Linked DNA regions of Homo sapiens: region 2 is linked to region 1. The links come from fine-mapping of genetic effects on gene expression. A gene starts in region 1. The other region holds a variant in brackets. All regions are shown on one strand. Distances are from middle to middle.

Region 1 (5,383 bases):
ACTTATTCATCTTGCATAACTGAAATTTTGTACCCTTTGACCCACATCTCCCCGTCTCTCCTTCTCCCAGCCCGTGGCAACCACTATATACCCAGTAACCCCCTTTCTGGGGATATAGTCAAAGGAAATAAAATCAGTATCTGAAAGAGAGATCTGAACTGTCATGTTCATTTTGGCATTTTTTACAATAGCCAAATAATGGAACAACCTAAGCATCTGCCAATGGATAAATGAATAAAGAAACTGTGAGATACGTACACACACACACGCACACACACACACACACACACGTATATGTATAACATACATATACGACAGTATATTATTTAGCCCTAACAAAGAAGGAAATCCTGCCATTTTTGACCACATGGATGAACCTGGAGAACATGCTTGGTGAAATAAGCCAAGCACAGAAAGACAAATAGCACATGATCTCACTTATACCATGGCACTGTGTTCATGTCTCAGCCACATTTACCACACCCAACCACGCAAACACAGCCACTGTCTCAGTTCCTGCCCCTGACCGGGGTACAGGGTGGGTGCTCTGTGAACACGTGTTCTACTCATGGCCCAGCTTCCCCACCTTCAGCTATTTTAGGCTCTGACACTGGAAATGAAATTCTTATGAAGCCCGGGCCAAGGCTGAGGTTGTGTGGAACTAGGGTGCCCTCTACTGTCTTCCACAACGATCACGACATTGCTTAATTTCATTCAATGAAGAGAAAATGCTAATGAAACAAATGGGAATTCAACGGATAGCCTATTATTTCTCAGCACAAATACAGAATTCTATAGTAAAACAAAAATCATTGAAATGGTAGTAAGCACTCTTCTAGCAATGTGAGTTTCTGTAAGGTTCTGATGGGCCTTACGATTTCACTGTCCCCTCAGGGCAGTCCATCTAAAGTGAGGCTATGTTATGTTACATAAACACTAGGAGGAGAGAGAGTGGCATACCGTTTCATTACAGGGAAGAGAAAAGAATTTAAGCAACATGCTGAAATACAATGTTAAAGAATGACTCTAACTTAAAATGATTTTTATATATTCAATAATATGTGTTGTGTGGACATAAAGCTGATAGAAAGTGTACCAAAAAAAGTGGAAGTTTTAAACATAATCCATCAAAAGAACATATTTCCTTACAGCTGACATTTCTTTTATTATTAAGAATTAATGTCTATAACCCTCGCTAATACAAAAATCATCCCTTGTTTATATACATTTATTTTTGCAAACTCACACCGAATGACTTTGTGTGACAAGCTGTGAAGTTTAAAATTTACCAATTCTTCCAACTCTTTGATTTGCATTATGCTGTTTAATCCTGAGAGAAGAGCAGCTGTCGCTGGTATTAGGTGTTAGAATTCCAACACCTAATAGGTGAAAATTATATTAGGCTGATCATAAAACCATGTTGTTAACTTTTTAAAATTTAATGTCTCCCAAGGAATTTCACCCTAGTGGTACATCTTTTGGGAAATTAGAAAATGAAGAAATGCATACGTTCAGTGATCCATTTTAGAATTAGAAAATTCAAATTAGCATCTTATTTCATTCATATTTCCTGAAGAACCACTGGAAACAGTTATTTAATAGTGTGGCTAAATGTATATTCAGAGAAACACTTCCTGTATATTTGCACATTTATGTATATTTATGTCCTATTCCTGGAATAGATTTACAAGTTTTGTTTTTCAGAAAATTTCAGAATTTCTGGAATGTGCAGAAGTATTAACAGGTAACTTAGATTTGGAATACACTGTATTAGAGATAACTGGAAAAATGAGAGGCTTCCTACACTGGAAGGTCAAAGATCTTTCCTGGAGGGGAGTTAGGAATTTGCCTTTACTTACCATTATTCTGTTAAAAGAGATTATGAATAATGCAGTTTCACAAAAGGAATGGGACAATGGTGTAAGTAAACCTCCCCATCACGTTTTCAGTGGCTTTCCTTTGAGTCTTGAACGTTTTCCACTGGGTGTTATAGTCGAGAGTCCCCCACCTCCTGAGGAAGCAAGACCTGGCAAACCCAAGACGATGCGCTCTTACTTGTGTTGTTTGAAGGGGCCCTGCTGCCGCGCAGTTGTCATTAATGCCACCCTCACCTCCCAGGAACTGCACCACTAGGACGGACGACACACCGACGTAATGACCATAGTAAGACCCCATGTACGTGGCTAATGAGGCAGTGACCCGACGTGGCTCGGAAGCCCTGCTGGGGAGATCCCGCCCCGTCACCCCAGAGGCGCTCTCCGACCTGCAGCCCCCAGGGCTCCTGGCCCTTTCCCGTTTGCCACTGCGGCTTGTTGTCAAGAAATGGAACTTCAGAAAACCCCCAGATATACACTGCGTTAGGTAAGGATTTCATTCTAATCGAGTCCAATGTGACCCTGGCTTTCCCTCCCGTAGTTATGCATTCCTGTCTATGAGTGAGATGAAAAGAATGTCCACAGGCCAGCTTCTTTCAGAAGCGCCTAAGAGATGCGCATGTAAGGGGTGCCATGGAGCACCCGGGAAGGACCCAGGCCTGGGCAGGGAGGCGTTGGGGCCGGCTCTAGGGAGCAAAGCTGTCGGAGTCCAGGCCTCTATCACCCGACTGCTGACACTGCCCTCCCATCCCTGCTCTACAAGCGGGCGGTGGTGACTACACGAGGCGCCGAAGATGCTGTTGAGGGCCCTGGAGAAACTTCAGCAGAACAGGGCCTCTCCCCTTGCAGGCCGAGCCGGGGGCCCTGCGCCCTCCCCCTCCGCCCAGCTCGGCCAAGGGCGCATTTGCTGAGCGTCTGGCGGCCTCTACCGGAGCACCTCTGCAGAGGGCCGATCCTCCAGCCCAGAGACGACATGTGGCGCTCGGGCGAGGTGAGAGCGGGCGCGAGTGCGCCGGGGGCGCTGGGGGGCTCTGCGGCGGGCGGCGCGCGGCCCGGGGCGCGGCGCGGAGCGGAGCTGCAGGGCGGCGGCGGGAGCGCGGGGCGCAAGAGCCGCTCCGCCGGGAGTGCCGGGGAAGTTCGCGCTGGCAGCATGGGGCGGTGACGCCGCACCGGCCTTCCGCGCCTGCCAGCCGGGCGAGAGCAGGCGGAGGAGAAGGAGGATGCATCCTCACCGACGGCTCGCCTCCCGGGGCCGGCGCGCAGGGTGAGCCCTGGGCGCGCTGGGCCGGGGCAGTGGGGTAAGAGGACGCGAGCGGGGAAGAGGACCGGCCGCCCCGGCTCGGTCCGCACCCTTCTCCTCGGGGCGCCTGAGCGGCAGGCTGCGTGGCCGGGGAGGAGAGGTGCAGAGCAGGCGGGGCGCGCAGCCAGGCCAGAGCGCAAACTTTACCCTGGCGACTGCGGGGCTGAAGCCGGGCGCGGGAGAGAGCGGGGTCCGGGCGGCTCATCCCTGCCGGACGGGGCACCAGGGCGCGGTGACCGGTTGGGGGTGGGGGACACCCGTTGCCACCATCACGGGAGCCGGAGGGGTGAGATCGCCCACCTGGAAAGCCAGCGTCAGCCCCGGGGCTCTGAGGCGCGCGGCGTCCCGGCGCTGCTCGCGGGGTGGACTCGGACCCCGCGGGGGTGTCGCGCGCGTGTCGCGCGGGCTGCTCGAGGCCAGGGGACTTGGAGTCGCTGCTGCACCGCGCGCTCCCAGCCCAGGAGGAAGGCGCTGCCTGGCGGAGCGCTTGGCTCGTACCCGGGGCAGGAGCAGGGGAAGTCTGCGAAAGCCGGGAGCGAGCCGGGGAGGGCCGGGGAGCTGGAGACCCTCGGCGTGCCGCTGCGGACCGCGCGGGTGGCGACCGCGGGTGCCAGGGCGACCCAGGCTGCGGCTCCGCAGTGCAGCCCCCGCGCCCACCTGCCCTGGCGCGCCGGCCCTGGTGAGCCTCTGTGGGGGTCCGGAGGGTCGTGGGAGCGCAGCCTCTCCTGGGGGTCCCTGGCTCGGGGCTGAGGGGCGGCGGGAGGCGCCGCCCGGGTTTCCCGCATGCAGCGCCGCGTGCTCGCCGCCTGGCTCTGGCCCGGGCCCCGCGACGAGCCCCCCGGACGCGCCCAGGCGACCACCGCATGGCACCCTGCCCTTCTTGGCAGGAGTCGCAGAAGGCCTTCGCTTCCGAGGTGGAAGTACCTGTTGTGTCTCCCAATTCCGGAGTTTGCGGGGGATGGGGGTTGGGGGGGCTTCTTGGGAAAATGCTTCTTTTCGAAGCATACTGTTCGGATGCCTGTGAGCACCTATTTGCGTTATGCGCATACTGAGAAATGCGTGTTTTCAGGAAGGTTAGTCGTTGAGCCCAGGGACAATGTCTGCCTGGATCTCAAATACATTAATTAGGGTCCAGCATTGAGTGGAGAGACTTCCACAGATGCAGTGCTTAAGTTATGTAGTCACGGGGACCGAATGCCGGGAAAGTAGCCACACTCTTTTATAGGCAGTTGTCACAGTATTGTGATCCTGCAGAAAACCTGTTTCTTAAATGTGCTTTTCCCCACTTCTTTCCACGTACTTTCTCAGTGCCTTGCAGAGAGAGGAGTAGCTTGCTGGCTTTGAACGCGTGGCGTGGCAGATATTTCAGAAAGGTAAAATTACTACACTTGTGGATTTGACGGATACAAAATACAGTCGCTCAGATAACTACAGCGTTTATTTTAATAATTGGACTAATGGTTTATTTGATAACATGCTAAAAAACAAAACAGAGTATTTGAGTGGAAAACAACGAATTAGGGTGATTCTGCACCCTGAGTAGAAGTAAAAATAAGCCTCTTGTTACTTATTTTTATGCTCCAACTTACTGCCCAGTGAGGGTGATGGAAAATACCTGGTGTGCAGCTGTCCTGGGGAAGGACAGCGGGCTCCTTTCTTTGCAAATTGTTGTGATAGCAGTGTGATTTGATTCCAGGAACTGTGACACAACAGCATTGATGTTCACGTGCTTCCCCGCTTTGTGTGCTTTTCAGCTTCAAGAACAAGCTGGAGAAGGGAAGAGTTATTCCTCCATATTCACCTGCTTCAACTACTATTCTTATTGGGAATGGACAATGGAATGTTCTCTGGTTTTATCATGATCAAAAACCTCCTTCTCTTTTGTATTTCCATGAACTTATCCAGTCACTTTGGGTAAGTTACCATCTGTGCTTTTATTTTATGATGTTAGGGACACTGGTGCCTTTCAGACATGTTACGGGAGCAGCACATCCATTGAGCAAGTCCTCGCCTGCCACCATTGCAGTCCCAAGCCCTTCACTTGTTGTAAATAAATGAAGTCATTGCCCTGACCCACGCTTTCTTCCTGAGCAAGGCTGCTCCTCACGTGGGGTCTCTGAAGTGAGTCAGAGAAAAAAAGGCAGATTATGTTTTCAGAAATGGAAGCTGAAGATGATATCCGAGTCAGCTGTGATTCTTCCTACTCAGG
Region 2 (5,383 bases), 86 kb after region 1:
TAAATAATGATGATATTTGTATAATGAGAGTGTTTTCTCTTATACCACAGCAAAAATCCCAGCCAAAAAAAAAAAAACAAAAACAAAAAACAAACCTAAGGCTCAGTAGAAGATCCTGTTTTCGTATACTATATAGTTACATTCCTCTCCTATAGTCTGTAGAGTTTAGCTTTGTGCTGTGGTTTGGAGAAAAATATACTGTAAATTATGTCCAAATGGTTACATGCATAAACACCCTCTTTAAACATCTCAATCCATCGATAGAAGAGTAAGCAACAGGTGTCCTCACCACCTGTCATCTCTCCCTCTATCTGTCCATCAATACACCCATCCTCAATCTATCTCTTTTTTTTTGCTACATTTCAAAATAAATTTCAGATGGCAATGCATTTCCCACTCCATATGTCAGCATGCATGTCATTATAACTAGAGTCCAATACTAGCTTACTGCTTTATTCATTTGAAGCAAAATTTTTAGTGTGAAATACACAAGTATTAACGGCACCTTTGCTGAGTGTGGACAGATACGTACATTGTGTGTAACTCAAATCCCTGCCACAGTAGAAAACGATGTTTTCCATATCAGGTGTCAGTAACTTTCTTGACAAGTTCTAGCCTTCATTACAGAAAACCTCCAATGAGCTCCAGTTTGAAGATACGCCTACCACATTTACAAGCTGCTGAACCTTAATTCTGATGAATATTTAGTGAAAAAGGTCACATTAGCTTTCTACTTTCTGATTTTGTATTGTAGATATTTCAGCATTTGTTATTTTTAATGAGAACATAATAAGAATCACCTTGGGGATAATGATAACAAGGCAAGAAATAAAAAGTTCTGAAAATAATTATAAATTACAGTACCATACTTTTAGAGCAAGGATATTTACACATATATCTTTTGACATCACCACAAATAGAGAGAATATTCTAATGTGTTTTTAATCAGTATTACTTCTGTACTTTCTCTGGAATCTAAAGACCTATCCAGGAAAAGCCTTGACTAATGTTGTCCTCAAAGTATGTGTCTGTATACAAAAAATTGGGTTCAAATGCCCCTGGAGTAACTATCAAACTTAAAATAGCACAGCAAACATCCTCTGTTGAAGATTAACAAGGAGGTTGTAAATCTTCTGACCTACTTGTCATTCTCATGTCTTAGAAATAATGCTTTATGTCTCTCATGGGACTGTGAAAAGAAAATAAGTCTCAAGACCCCAAAATCACTAAAGCAAGGGAAAAGTGAAACTGGGAACTATCTCAGGCAAAGCTGCCTCCCATTTTATTCCTAAATAAGATAGCTACAAAGATAAGAAGCTACATACCTCCCTCACAATTTGCCCACAAAGAAGTTCCTTGTGGACAAAGGACAGGCAAAACCCAAAATCATCCCTCTGCTCACGTGAGACAAATGCATATCTGATTGCTTTCTTTGCTTTACTGGTTCACTAAACCAGGCTGTCTACCTATGACCTGGAAGCGCTGTCCCCGCTTCGAGTTGTCCCACCTTTCTGGACCAAACCAGTGTACATCTTACATATATTGATTGATGTCTCCTGTTTCCCAAACATGTATAAAACCAAGCTGTGCCCCAACCACCTTGGGCACATGTTGTCAGAACCTCCTGAGGCTGTGTCATGCGTACATCCATAAACTTGGCAAAATAAACTTCCTAAATTGATGAAGACCTGTCTCAGTCAGACACTCTTAGTTTACAGGACAAATTATGAGAAGCAGGTACACTAAATGAGTAACCTCTATTTTATAAACAGGGATACTGCAGCCCAAAGAGGTTAATCCATTGGCTCAGAATCGTATCAAAAGTTAGGAGGACATGCAGGCCTAGATCTTAGTCCTCATAATTTCTAACCCAGGGCTCACAATACCATGCGATTGCTTCCAGATGGAAGTTGATTTAGAACAAAAATGTAACCTAAAATGGAAAATCTTGCTTCAAGCCCTGATTGAGTGATTATCTATAAACAATGCCCTAGAGAAACTTTTTTTTTTTGCACTTTTTTGCACTGAAAACATCATCTTTAAGTTTGCCCCTTCTTATATAAAGAAGGGTGTGCTTCTGTGATCTTCAAAACCTCTCCTGATGGAATGGACCTGTGTTAGGGTAGCACTCCCCCCAACTACCATTCAAGGAGAGAGAGAGAGAGAAAGAGAGAGAGAGAGAGGAGCACTGATTGACTAGAGCCAAGGATCTTGATGTGATTGTTCCTCCCAGAGCTCCCACCTGAATGATGATGTGACTGCCTTGGGAGGGATCTGCCTCGAGAGAAAGCATAACTCACTGTGACACTGAGTCTTCAATCAACATCATCCTTCATTGTAAGAACTAACTTCAAATCAAAAAGAACCTTTTCTTTGGAAAATTGGAAATTCCACAGTTTACTCAGTGAAAACAGTATTTTAAATATTTAAAAATTAGTCTTAATGTCTTTTTACCATATACTAGCACATCTGGGACAATCAGTGCCCTGAGCAAACACGTTGAGCATTTGAATATGAATTACTCTGATCACTGATATTACTTGCCAGGTTTGCAGTGATATAAGGTAATGATTTTGAAGTCTGCAAAAAGGTTCATTTCATCAAAGATTTACATGATTATCTGTTTTTCACTGTCATTTTCAATAGACTATCTCTACTCTAAATTCAAATGCTCTGTAGCCTGTTTTGAAATGAGTGTGGGTTCTTTATGGAAACTTGTAATTTGAAAAATATTTACTCTTCACAATTTCCCTAATATAAAAGTCTGAAGAGATATTTAAGGAAAAAAAAAGTCTGAAGAAATGTTTACTTAACTTTTCTGAGTTCAGATTGAAAATCAGATAAACCAAGGATCAGGCACTCTATTTTGCAATGTAAGACCTCAGAAGGAAAAAT[T/A]TGAAGTGAGCTCTAATTGATCCAATATGCTCATTTAAATCCAATTTATTCTACATTCTTCATGATGCTATCATTGTCTCCCTACCAGCCAGTATTATTCCAGGCCTGTAGCAGGAGCTAGATGAATGTGAACTGACTGAAGAAATGAATCCTGATAAGTGGGTGGACTGGATTTGATGAAACTCCTTCAGGTAGGGATTGCAAATTGGTGGTAATATTCCACCCAAAGGAAATCCTTTCTTAAGAATTTATAAAATAAGAATTTCAAAGATTTGTGTAAACCTATCCATAGTTGACCTAACAACATTAGGAACATGATCCCACAAGGTGACAATTGTCTGGGCTTGAGTGACAGGCTGCTCCTTTAGGTCGGGTGACCACGTAAATTTATCTTCCAGACGTGAGACTTGCATAGTGGTGGATTGAGGTCCTCCGTAAATCCTCTCTCCACAAAAAGCAATGAAAACGCTGGCAAGATTATATAAAAGCAGACATTTCAGAACTCCGGAAATAAAATCAAAGGCATACAACAAATTAAAAGTGTTTACTGAAGAAACAGTACTGAACTTCAATAAGAACAGTGAGGTCTATGCCATTTTAACTTAGAGATTTGCCTATATCCCTCTCAGCTCCTTGGCATGGTACCATGAAGACCAGAAGCCTTGTTGCCACCAGAGGGGGATGATTTAATTTGGAACTCTACAAAATGCCCCATCCCCAGAGTTTTGCCACTATTTGACCCGACTTGGAGCTCCATGGGAAAGTTTTATTCCCAAAGCATTGTTGATGATAATGATGATCAGCATCACTTGAGGAAGGTGAACTCTGAAGCCTTCAAGACAGTGATGCCAGCTAAGGCAAGAAAGACACCAGCCAAACATGTAAAAGGAAGATCTGGGGAATCAGATCTAGTTCACAGTGGACTATAAAAATCTCAGACATATTCCTGAGGATCTGAAAGCCTGTGTGTATGTGCAGGGTCGTGTGAACAGTCAAGAAAGAGCAGAGAGAGTCTTAGTTACTTACTCATCCCTGGCTGACCTTGATGTCCTGTGAAAGCAAAAAGTGAAAGACAAGGAAGACTTAATCTGCCTAAACTTTGAAAGCATGCTCCAAACTACACACAGATCCTCACAGCAAAGGGTGAAAAATGTATTACCATAAAGCATTCAAGAAAATTAAAGACCGATCATTGGCTGCCCTAAGCTATGCTGACATATGGGTGACCCCTATAAAGCCAGGACTAAAAATGAAAACAGACAGAGACTTCAGTATAGGGAATGCAAACACTAGCATACTGGTCCAGGAAAGTAAACAAACAAAGCCTAACCCCAACAACAACAAAATACAACAACAATAAATAGTGGGAGAAAGGGATGATTAGATTTCAATGGTATTAAAATATATGGCTAGTGTTTCCAGTTTATTATATTAGGAGGCATGCAAAGAAATTGCGATGTGCAGCCTGTATACAAGAAACAAAACCATCAAAAGATACTGGCCCTCAAGGTGCCCAGAAGTTGGATTTAGTAAATAGACTTTAAATCAGCTATTTAATAATAATAAGAAGAAAGAATATAATATATAATAATAAGAAATAATGGTTGAACTTCCCATAATTTATTAAAAGCATTAATTTACACTTCTAAGAGGCTCAACTAAGTCTTAATATAGTAAGCTTAAAGAGATACACACCTGGACACAACGTAATTGTTCTGTTGAAAGCCAAAGACAGAGGGAGAATCTTGAAAGCAAGAGAGAAGAGACTCATCATATACAAGGATCCTCAATAAGAATGACAGCTGACTTCTCATAAAAAACCATGGAGGCCAGAAGGCAGTGAGACAACATATTCAAAGTGCTGAAACAAAGCAGGGAACCCCCCACCATCAACCAAAACTTCTATATTGAGCAAAATTACCCTTCAAAACGGCAAGTGAAATAAAGACATGCCCAGGTAAATAAAAATGGAGACAATACATTTATAGCAGCCCTACTCTACAAGAAATACCAAAGGAAGTCTTTTAAGGTATATAGGAATGATAAATCAATGTTAACTTGAACTCACACAAGGAAAGGAAGATCACCATAAAGGAAATTACATGGGTAAATATAAAATGTAAATAAAGTTTTTACTCTTTTCTTCTTTCAACCAATTTAAAAGACAATTGTATGAAACAATAATTATGAAGCTATATTGTTGAGTTTATAAGCATAATTTGTATAACAATACTATCACCTTGGAGAAGGACAAGTCATGATGTTGGAAGGAAATTTCTATATACTTTTGAAATTAAGTTAGTAATAATCAGCACTAAATTGTTTTAAGGTAGGATGCATATTTAATCCCCAGAGCAGCCACAAAAAATAAGTAAAAGAAAAGGTAGTGAACAATCCAAAGAAATTAAAATAGTGTACTAGAAAATAACACAAAAGAAAACAAAGAGCAAAATATCAGCTATAAATTCAACCACATCAATAATTAAAT

Evidence for each region. PIP is the estimated chance that this variant, and not a neighbour inherited with it, causes the effect.
Region 2: its variant is the best candidate, but not a certain one, in a credible set for the expression of GABRA5 in testis (GTEx, PIP 0.62).

Annotation. Positions count from the first base shown.
Region 1 is chr15:26,864,247-26,869,629 of GRCh38, forward strand. GABRA5 (gamma-aminobutyric acid type A receptor subunit alpha5) reads left to right here and starts at 2,816. Exons shown (of 11, transcript NM_000810.4): 1 at 2,816-2,865; 2 at 4,483-4,547; 3 at 4,929-5,088. The coding sequence starts at 5,003.
Region 2 is chr15:26,949,913-26,955,295 of GRCh38, forward strand. No RefSeq gene overlaps it. Among named protein-coding and RNA genes, the nearest start is that of GABRG3, 19 kb to the right of the region's middle. The variant T/A (reference allele first, on the strand shown) is at 2,896.